Regions from separate parts of the Homo sapiens genome. Here region 2 is linked to region 1. Evidence: fine-mapped expression QTL. A gene starts in region 1. The other region holds a variant in brackets. All regions are shown on one strand. Distances are between the middles of the regions.

Region 1 (5,542 bases):
CGCTTCTTTCCTTATGAATTCAGTTTTAGAAACAGTGGAGAATGGCTGCCAATTTAAAGGCACCAGAGAGTAGGAATGTGTATTCAAGCCAGACTGTCTGAGTTCAAATCCTTGCTGGGTCAGTCAATTTCCATGTGATCTTAGGCAAGCTGTATAATTCTTTGGGCCTTGGTTTTCCCATTTGTAAAATGGAGATAATAATAGTTTATATCTCATAGCTTTGCTGTGAGGATTTAATAAGTTAACATTTGTGTTTAGCACAGCACTGGAGAAATAGCAGATTGGAGGAACTACAGAAGTCCTAACTAATACTGTTGTGGTTCTGAAAAAGCAGCAACTTGAGGAGCTCTTGAAAACCTAAATAGTATTTAAGGCCAAGAGTATCTGTCTATTGTCAGGATCACCAGAAAAAAATGTGAGAAGCAACTTCGAGGTAATGCTGCATTTCAGCATGCTTTACCCCGAATGGAAATGTAGAGAACCCAGGCAGGCCATGTTTTCCAAAGAGCAGGGGATCAACTTGTTCTTGATGGGAGGTTTAAATCTTAGTAAAACCATAAATAAGGCCACAGTCATGGACTTTGAACACTAAATCAGATGAAATAACTTGTAACTTCTTCCATGTAATCACAAAAGCTAGAAAATAAATTATTAGTAATTTATTTTAAAGATGATTGCCCAATTGACATTGTTTTTGAAAAAAGATATTAAAAATTTATTAAACTATAATTTTATTGTTAATTATTTGAATTCAGGAAGATTATTATGGTCACTTCTATGAGATTTAGTTAATCTCCACTTCTTTCTACCCTGTAATTTTATTAGTTATCTTAAGACAGTTTCAAATTATTTCATCAATCTTCATCTTTGCTTTTAATTTATGCAGCAGAATTTACTTGTTCATTGGTATGAGTAATTTTCAATATTTTGCCAAACAGCCTGTGGCAACTGAAAACACAAGTTGCATACATTAGACTTTTCTTTTTGAGTGCAATGCAACAAAAACAAATTATGTTGCAAACCCAACTTCATTGAACTGCAGGCACTCATAACTAATTAAAAATACTTTTAAAACATCTGTATTTATGAAAACAAATTTGACCAACATATTTGGGAGGCAAATAGTAGAGCAAAGCATATCTTATGACTATAATAATTTTTAGTTGTACTTTACTGTTATTTATGTTTTTTATCTCCCTACTCTGACAAAATGCTTTATATATCATTTAGTCCATCTTGTTCTAGAACCTACTATAGTTGAAACCCAATAAACAGTTGTAGACCAATTTTCTTACTGTTATATACTCAGATTATGCCTTAAGTTCACCCTACAAGTAAACTTTCCGTCAATTTCATAGTGTTGTGAAAACTCTCTAGTAGCTCAGAACGTTCTTGGTGGTCTCAATATATTAAAAGTATGCAGTCAGATACTGATGGCCCTGAGTCCTGCAGACAGCTAACAAAGCTGAAGCCCACAGGCTAGTGAGCACCAGCTGAGAGCACTTTCTATAGAGTTTGTGGGCAGTCCAAGAGAGACAGGATCTGAGATGTGATGATATGTCCTCTGGCAGCAGCAATATCTGATATTGAGCTCTGCTAGGTGGTGCTGAGCGTGGACACCTGCTTCCTTCACCGGCTGCAGAGAACACAGTATCCATTAAAGGAGCTGAAAGAGGTGCTAGAGGAGTTTACATGGCAGGAGTCCAGGAAGCTCTGCAACAGTCCAAAATGAGGTTGGGACACATGATACACTTGTTCATCCCTATTCTCTATCTTCACACATATGCATATCAGTCCTTCCGTGGCTGCTATATTCTTGTGGTGAGATCCAAACCAGCTGCAGTCTTGCTCTCCCAGTGCATGCTCATTCTGCAAATCAGAGCTTCAATGTATTGCTATGAAAAATTCTGACTGGTCTTGAAATCCATTGACACCATCACAAGAAAATTCAACATGACATCGTCATGAACAGAAATGGATGATGGCTTCATATTCTTAAATATAATTTCCAACTATGGTGAAATTTTGAATGGTTGTAAAAACTGTTTTTGCATTTTTATACCTCACTTATTTTGTTAATGGAGACTATCTAGAGTTTGATGTAATTCTCATCAAAAAGTCCATCAGTAATTATTTCAAATATAAAACTGATATCAAAAAATTGAGTTAATGAAAATAAACTCAAATTTTTCATAAAAATATGAAATTATATTATACGGAACTTTATGTACATGGAAAGTGAATAATTTCTATTATTTTTCTATTTGATATTTATCATATTTATGTAATTAAAAACATAATTAAATTTTAAACTAAATTAAACTGCGCTCCAGGAAGACATCATTTTCTCTGAACCATGACTCTGAAAATTTGGAAAGCACCGTACAAGAGGGATTTTCAGTGATTCACAAGAGTGCAAGATTCTGCAAAGTACTTTCAAAACTAAGCGTGAGATCTTTGCTACTGCCTTTATGGCATGCAAATCACTCAGCCTCAACTCAGTTCCTTCCTCCAATGTAAAAATACTACAAGAACAACATCTCACGCTTCCATCAAATGGGACCATGTGTGATATTTTACACTGGACTACACAATAGGCTGGAAAAGTGATCCGCAGAGAGGCTCATTGCTCTAAGTTCACTCCCTGTACCAACTGTCTTGCACAAAGCTGCCACCCGGGTGTCTTCTTCCAACATTTCCCCTAGTTGGACTTCAAAGTTTCCTTCTTGCAGCCTGTGCGGGGACCAAGAGGCCGGTCTAGAGTAGCCGCCCAGCATCCAGATCCGACATCCTTTTCCCTTTCCTCAGGAAGACTTGGATGCGCGCCAGCCCAGCCCGGGTCTCCAGGTTCAGCTGCGGAAGCTTCCCACATGGTGCCCGTCGCTTGGGATGCGGCTATCCTTGTGCCTTCTCTGCAGGTGTCCCGGCAGGTAGAGGAGGAGACCGGTGGCTGGTGTTCCTGCAGGGCGGGGCTGGGGCTCCTCGATGTCCTTGCGCTTGCCCTGCAAGTTCTGCGCCCCAGGCCCCGGCAGGGACGGAAACAGGCCGGGAAGCAGTGACACCTGGGGCAGTCAGTCATCCAGGAGCCGCCGCCACCCGCCCCACCCCCAGTCTCCGCGGGAGGTGTTTGTCTTCGCCTATGCTCCCGGCTCTTTCTCTTTCACTTTTCTTTTCGCCAGGGGTTGGGACTCCGGGTGGCAGGCGCCCGGGGGAATCCCAGCTGACTCGCTCACTGCCTTCGAAGTCCGGCGCCCCCCGGGAGGGAACTGGGTGGCCGCACCCTCCCGGCTGCGGTGGCTGTCGCCCCCCACCCTGCAGCCAGGACTCGATGGAGGTACAGAGCTCGGCTTCTTTGCCTTGGGAGGGGAGTGGTGGTGGTTGAAAGGGCGATGGAATTTTCCCCGAAAGCCTACGCCCAGGGCCCCTCCCAGCTCCAGCGTTACCCTCCGGTCTATCCTACTGGCCGAGCTGCCCCGCCTTCTCATGGGGAAAACTTAGCCGCAACTTCAATTTTTGGTTTTTCCTTTAATGACACTTCTGAGGCTCTCCTAGCCATCCTCCCGCTTCCGGAGGAGCGCAGATCGCAGGTCCCTTTGCCCCTGGCGTGCGACTCCCTACTGCGCTGCGCTCTTACGGCGTTCCAGGCTGCTGGCTAGCGCAAGGCGGGCCGGGCACCCCGCGCTCCGCTGGGAGGGTGAGGGACGCGCGTCTGGCGGCCCCAGCCAAGCTGCGGGTTTCTGAGAAGACGCTGTCCCGCAGCCCTGAGGGCTGAGTTCTGCACCCAGTCAAGCTCAGGAAGGCCAAGAAAAGGTACCGCAGCTCCCCACTTCCTAACTGCTCCCGTCCCAAACTCATTGTGGGCCGGTGCAGATGTCTGTGCGTGCGCGTCTATCCCTACCTTTGCAAAATCAAATTATCGCCCTCTTCTTTGCTTGCACACGTCTTCTGGGAGAGAAATTTGCAGGAATGGTCAGTGCTTGGCAGTCAGGCCTGGGTCTGTATTGGTTCCAACTCTGCGCCAGCCAGTTATCTCTTAGAGAAGCGATAGTGTATCTAGAATGTCGAAGGAACTTGGAAAAAATACGAGCGAATTTCACTGAAATAAAATCATTATTCAAGGTGGCTTTTAAATGAAAATCCAGCCAATTTTTTCAAGTGTTATTAAGACCGCATGTAGCAAGGGTATATAGTTCATTTGACTTTATGTAATTCCATGCATTAAAAACTATGTTGACTTCAAAGTATGTCTAAACCAAACTAATTCTTAAATGATGCTTACAACAGATTCTTAAATAGGATGAGTCAGCAATTTCAAAACTGGAAGTAAAGTGGTGGTCACCAGCTAGTTTCCATTATATATTTTTAAACTACTATCTAATATTATGATACTGGTGGTGGCCAACTAAGTGGACGTCATCCTTATCTTGTCAGTGTGGTGAAAGAGGCCATATTAGCTAGGCTGAATTTTTGCTCAGGTATTACAGAATAAACTGGTGATTATGCATCCTGCCATGTAGAGGTTATAAGGTGAACCATTCTACTGAAAGCATCAAGATACAATACACTTTTGGAAGGCCGAGGCGAGAGGATAGCTTGAGACCAGGAGTTCCAGTTTATAGTGAGCTATATGATCTGCCACTGCACTCCAGCCTGTCAAAAAATAAATAAATGAATAAAAAAGATATAATACAGGTTAAATTTTTAAACTCCTGTTGTTTTCGTGTGAAGTAATGTGGCCAACAGAGCAAGGAAATACATGGGAAGGAACATAAAGACATATAAAGAGAAGAACTGAAAATACAGCAAAAGCCATTTAGATTTAAAAAGTGAAGAAAAAGCTAGTTTTGCTTAAAGTTAACAAGTATCATAGAGATCTTAAGGTTTGTTATGATTGTCTTAGTTTCGGGTCCTTATTCGTGTAAAATTCTCACAGAATTTTAGTCAATCAGAAAAGTCTCTCCTGCAGTATCATCTGCTTTGCAACAGTGACAGAGAAGGGTCAGTTGACCATTGGTCTGGAACTTCTGATAGGCAGGGTGTTCCCATACTTTTGGTTTCACTGTTCCTTGCTGATTTGGAGTGGCAACTCCAGAACCTGATTGGAAGCTATAGTTCTGGTTGGAATTTTCCTGCAGACTACTGGTGATTAAAATGATGCTCTTTTGTTTTAATCCATGAAATTAATGTAGCCAATGTCAACAGCTATATTGCAAGGCACAATGTTTATAAATTTCCTTGGGGGATGGAGAAAACAGTGGTTTAAGGTTTATCGAAATAGATTTTGGAAGTGGAAGGTTTTAAAGCCTACGGGATACTCCATCTCAGATTTGCTGCCTCTGATGAATTTCAGGACAGCTAGAAGAGCAGCCCTGAAATGCTGGGTACATGTGGATTTTTCTCAGGAAAATATCCGTAACTTTGATCAGCTTTTTAAATGGGTCTCTGACCCAAAAGAGTTTTAAATCTTTTGAAAATATAGACTACTGTCCTTTTCCCCTCATCTCTCCTGGAGTTTAATGTTGAGTTCTGCTCATTGTGTTAA
Region 2 (5,000 bases), 90 kb after region 1:
TCAGTAACTAATGGAAGTACTAGACAGAAAATCAGAAAGGGCATAAAAATACAATATAACCAACCAACAGGATCTAATTTAATACATAGAGCACTACACCCAACAACAGCAGAATATACTTTCTTTTATCAAGACTAAATATATACTGAGCCATAAAAGAAACTTTAAAAATTTTTTCAGAACTTAAATCATGCAGAATTTGTTCTCAAACCACAATGGAATCAAACCAGAAATCAAGAAATTAAATACAACGGGCAAATCTCCAAATGCTTGGAAATTAAATACTATACCTCTATATAATCCATGGGTCAAAGAGTAAATCTCAAAGGATATTCATAATACATAGAATGAAAAAAAATGAAATACAGCATATCAAGATATATGTGATGTGGCTAAAGCAATACTGACAGGACATTTTTTAAAATCAAATGAATACATTAGAAAAAAAGGAGAATTATCAAATCAAAAATCTAAGTTACTGCTTCAAGAAACTAGAAGAAGTAGAGCAAAACAAATTCAATACAAGCAGAACAAAGAAAATATTTAAATATAAGAGCCAAAATTAATGAAGTTGAAATCAAGAAAACAATAGAAAAAATTAATGAAACATAAAACTGGTTATTTGGAAAATCAATACAATTGATCTTTAATTGACAGAAATAAGAGAGAAGACACAAATCTCAGGAATGAAATTTGGGGCTGTCACTACAGAATCTGCAGTCATTAGAAGGATAATAAGAAAAACTATGAACAATTTTATGCTCACAAATCTGATAACTTAGAGGAAATGGACCAATTCTTCAGAAACCACAAACTACCAAAACATAATGAAGATGAAATAGACAATCCAAACACTCATATAATCACTAAATACATTGAATTCATCATACACAAGCTCCCAAAAAGGGACCTTCAAGCCTGCTGGTTACACTGAATCATTCTATCAAATATTTACAGAAGCATTAACAACAATTGTACAGTCTCTTCTAGAAAATAGAAGAGGAAGGAACATTTTCCAGTTGATTTTAGGAGGCCAGTATTACTGTGATGCTAAAACCAAATAAAGATATTACTAAAAAAGACAACTACAAAAATATCTCCCATTAACTTAGATATTAAAATGCTCTATAAAATATTAACAAATCAAATTCAGCAATGTATAAAAAGAATTATACACCATGACCGAGTGAGATTTATTTCAGGTACACAAGTCTTGCTCAATTATTTGAAAGTCAAGCAATGTAATCTACCCTATCAACAGGCTAAAGAAGAAAATCATATGTAGAAAAGGTATCTGATAAAATGCAACACCTCTCATGGCCTGTGTCCCTCCCTATGCCTCCTGGATTTATATGTTGAAGTACTAATTGCCAGTATATCAAAATGTGACTGTATTTTGAGATAGGGTCAGTTAAAATGAGGTCATGAGGGCAGGTCCTACTGCAATATGACTGGTATCTTTAGAAAAACAGATAAGGGTATAGATACACAGAGATAGAAAACCATGTGAAGACACTGGGAGAAAATGGCCACCTATAAGCCAAGGAGGGAGGACTCCAAAGAAACCAACACTGCTGGTACCCTGATTTCAGACCTCTAGCCTCCTGAATTGTGAGAAAATAAAGTTCTATTATTTAAGTCACCAAGTCTGTGGTACTTTTTATAGCAGCCCTAGCAGACTGATATAAACACCTATTGAAGATAAAATTTCTTAGAAAGTAGGTGTGGAGAACTGCCTCAACTTGGTACAAAACATGTTCAAAAAGTCTAGAGCTACCATACTTAATGGTGAGTACAAGACTGAATGTTTTTCTGCTAGGACTGGAAACTAAGCAGGGATATCTTCTCTCACCACTTTTACTCAACATAATTGTCTGAGTTTTCTGTTGCTTATAACAGAGTACTTGAAATGCATAATTTATAAAGAAAGGAATTTATGTCTTATGGTTATGAGACTGAAAAGTTCAAGGTTGAGGAGCCACATCTGGTGAGGGCCTTCCTGCTGGTGGGGGCTCTCTGGAGTCCAGAGGTGACAAAAAGCATCACATGGCGAGGGGCTGAATGTACTCATGTGCTAGCTCAGGTCTCTCTTCCTCTTCTTATAAAACTACCGGTTCCCTTTCCGTAATAACACATTGATACTCTAATCCATTCATGAGGGCAGAGCCATTGTGATCCAATTACCTCTTAAAGCCCCACCTCTCAATACTGCCACATTGGGGATTAAGTTTCAA[T/C]CTGAATTTTGGAGGGGACATTCAAACCACAGCAATAATATTGGAAGTTTAGCCAAATTATGAAGCAGGAGAGAAAAAATGTATGAGAAAAAAATAAATAAAAGGCACACAGATTGGAAAGGAAAATTATACATCACCCCAAGTTTTTTGGAGAGAAAGTAGTAAAAATGGGTATATTTTGTTTAGAAAGTAATGCAAATTAAAACCACAATGACATATTATTACATGCAGCTATAAGCGTATACAGAATAAAAAATAGTGATGATGCTAAGTAAATATAAATGAACAAGGGTGATAATGCTGGCAAGGATGTGGAGAAACTGGATCATTCATACATTGCTGGTGATGATGTAAAATGATACAGGCACTGTATAAAATAGTTTGGCAGCATCCTATGAAACAAAACATGCATTTGCCTTACAATCCAACAATTGTGCTCTTAGACATTCATCCTTGATAAATGAAAACTACGTGCACACAAAAATATGTACATGAATGTTCACAGAGATTTTTTCATGACTGCCAAAAACTGGAAACAGATGTGCTTCAGTTGGTAAAATCTGTGATATATCATGTCAGGGAATACTACAGAGCAATAAAAAGGAACAAACTAGTGATACCCACAAGTTAGGTGGATCTCCAGGGTATTATGATGAGTGAAAAAAGCCAGTCTTCATAAAGAAACTGTGGTACATTTATAAAATAGAATATTATCCAGTGATAAAAAGAAATAAGCTATCAAGCCATGAAAAGAAATGGAGAAACCTTCAAAGTCATATTGTTGAGTGAAAGATGGGGACGCCAATCTGAAAAGGCTTCACACTGTATGATCCCAACTATGACATTTTGAAAAAGGCAAAGCTATGGAGACAATAAAAAGATCAGTGGTTGCTAGGGGTTTGGAGGGAAGGAGAAATGGCTAGGCAGAGCACAGGCTACTTTTAAAGCAGTGAAAATATTAATATATGATGATGGGTGGCATTATACATTTGTCAAAACCTGTAAAACATACAACACAAATAATGAGCCCTAATATTCTGTACACTTAAGATCATAATAGTGATTCACCAACTATAACAAACACACCACACTAATGCAAGATATTAACAATAGGGAAACTGGGGTGGAGAACAAAGGGGTGTATAAGTCTCTGTACTTTCTGCTAGTTTTTCTGTAAACCTAAATGGCTCATAAAAATGTCTATCAATTCTTTTAAAAGCTAATTTCAGAAGGTTACATATGATATGAGTCCGTTTACATAATATTCTTGAAATGACAAAATTATAGGCATGGAGAGCAGAGAAGTGGTTGCCAGAATTTAGAGAGATTGGGTGATGATGAGGTATGTATGGGGAGAAAGGTGACTTTGGTTATGAAAGAATAGCAGCAGAATCCTTGTGGTGATGAAACTATTTTGTGTCTTAACTGTGGTGGTGGTGATGTGAATCTATGCAAATGATAAAATTGCATAAAACTTCACACATATGCAAGCACACACACTGTGGCACATAAAACTTGTGAAATCTGAACAAGGTGAGTGCATTGTATTAATGTCAATTTTCTGATTGTAATACTGTACTGTGGTTATGGAAGACATTACCACTGGGAGAAGCTTGTTGAAGGGTACACAGGATCTCTCTGTATTTACTCTTACAGTTTCATATGAATTTTAAATTATCTCAAAATAAAAAAAGAATTAAAAACAATTTAATGTTTTCAGTAGGTTGTTCTCATAATATTTAAAGCAGGGCATAGTTTTTAATATTGTCTAATTTTGTTTCCTTTCAGTCTATGCATATTGATGCTACTTTATATACGGAAAGTGATGTTCACGTGAGTATACTTTTTTTCAAAATTGCTATTTGTCTTGTTATTAAAGTTTTTAAAAGTATATTTTTGTAACAACTAAAATATGGTAGTTTTAAAATCTAACTTTTGGTGTGTTTCTATAATATATGGTCAATGAGTTTTATTAGTGATTATTGAGATGGGACTTGGGGACAGATAGCTACATCAATGCTATTTTTGTAATGGTGCCAAATCAAAATATTAAAAGAGTCTTTTCCATCAATGTCAAACAAGATACATTATACGTTTTTGTGATGCAGTTGCATCATGGTGCAATTAGATGCAAAAATCAGATTAACTGTTTCAATTTAAGAGTAGCCAATATATCAGTTATTTCCAATGCTGTAATGTATCACCATCTGCAATCATATTTTCCATAAATTGCTTAAAATCATTCATGTTCTGCATTTTACATGATTCTCTACATTTGTCAGAAAAAGATTCTAATTATTCTCTATGTGAGAAAGGAAACATAACCCATGAAACTTATTAGAACTGAAAAATGGTCTTGAACTTGTTTCATTAATACCCTGACATTTCCTAAGGAATGTAGGATTTGTCATGTTGGTGGTGGTTCTTCCCTTCAGTATTGTTACTAAAACCAAGAAATGAATCCCCAACTTCACGTCAGGGAAAACAAACTCTATGTCCTCTCTCCATTATTCCTCAATTAGAACTTCTCTTACATAGATGACTTTCTAAGCATTGGAAAGAAACCATAGTCAGAAACTAGAAAAAAGAGATATTCACTAACCAATTGGGTCATGCTGCTGCACAAAGAAATTGTCTCCCTCCTCTGGCTTCAGCATGGATTCTGTTTTTCTTTGCATTTTTTGTAAAATGGAAAGTAGTCAATTAGCCACCAAATTCAGCATCCTGAAATTGCTTTTTTGCAAGAAGATAACTTTGCAACCCATG

Direction of the effects. Alleles are on the strand shown, and positions count from the first base shown. SD is a standard deviation of normalised expression in the study named.
With allele C in place of T in region 2, the expression in tibial nerve of the gene that starts at base 3,169 in region 1 is lower (small effect, 0.26 SD a copy in GTEx).

What was found. PIP is the estimated chance that this variant, and not a neighbour inherited with it, causes the effect. A credible set is the group of variants that fine-mapping cannot tell apart.
Region 2: its variant is the best candidate, but not a certain one, in a credible set for the expression of IL15 in tibial nerve (GTEx, PIP 0.51).

The regions. Positions count from the first base shown.
Region 1 is chr4:141,633,415-141,638,956 of GRCh38, forward strand. IL15 (interleukin 15) reads left to right here and starts at 3,169. Exons shown (of 8, transcript NM_000585.5): 1 at 3,169-3,334. RefSeq lists an enhancer at 3,082-3,171.
Region 2 is chr4:141,723,918-141,728,917 of GRCh38, forward strand. IL15 (interleukin 15) reads left to right here. Exons shown (of 8, transcript NM_000585.5): 6 at 4,023-4,067. Among named protein-coding and RNA genes, the nearest start is that of IL15, 90 kb to the left of the region's middle. The variant T/C (reference allele first, on the strand shown) is at 2,235.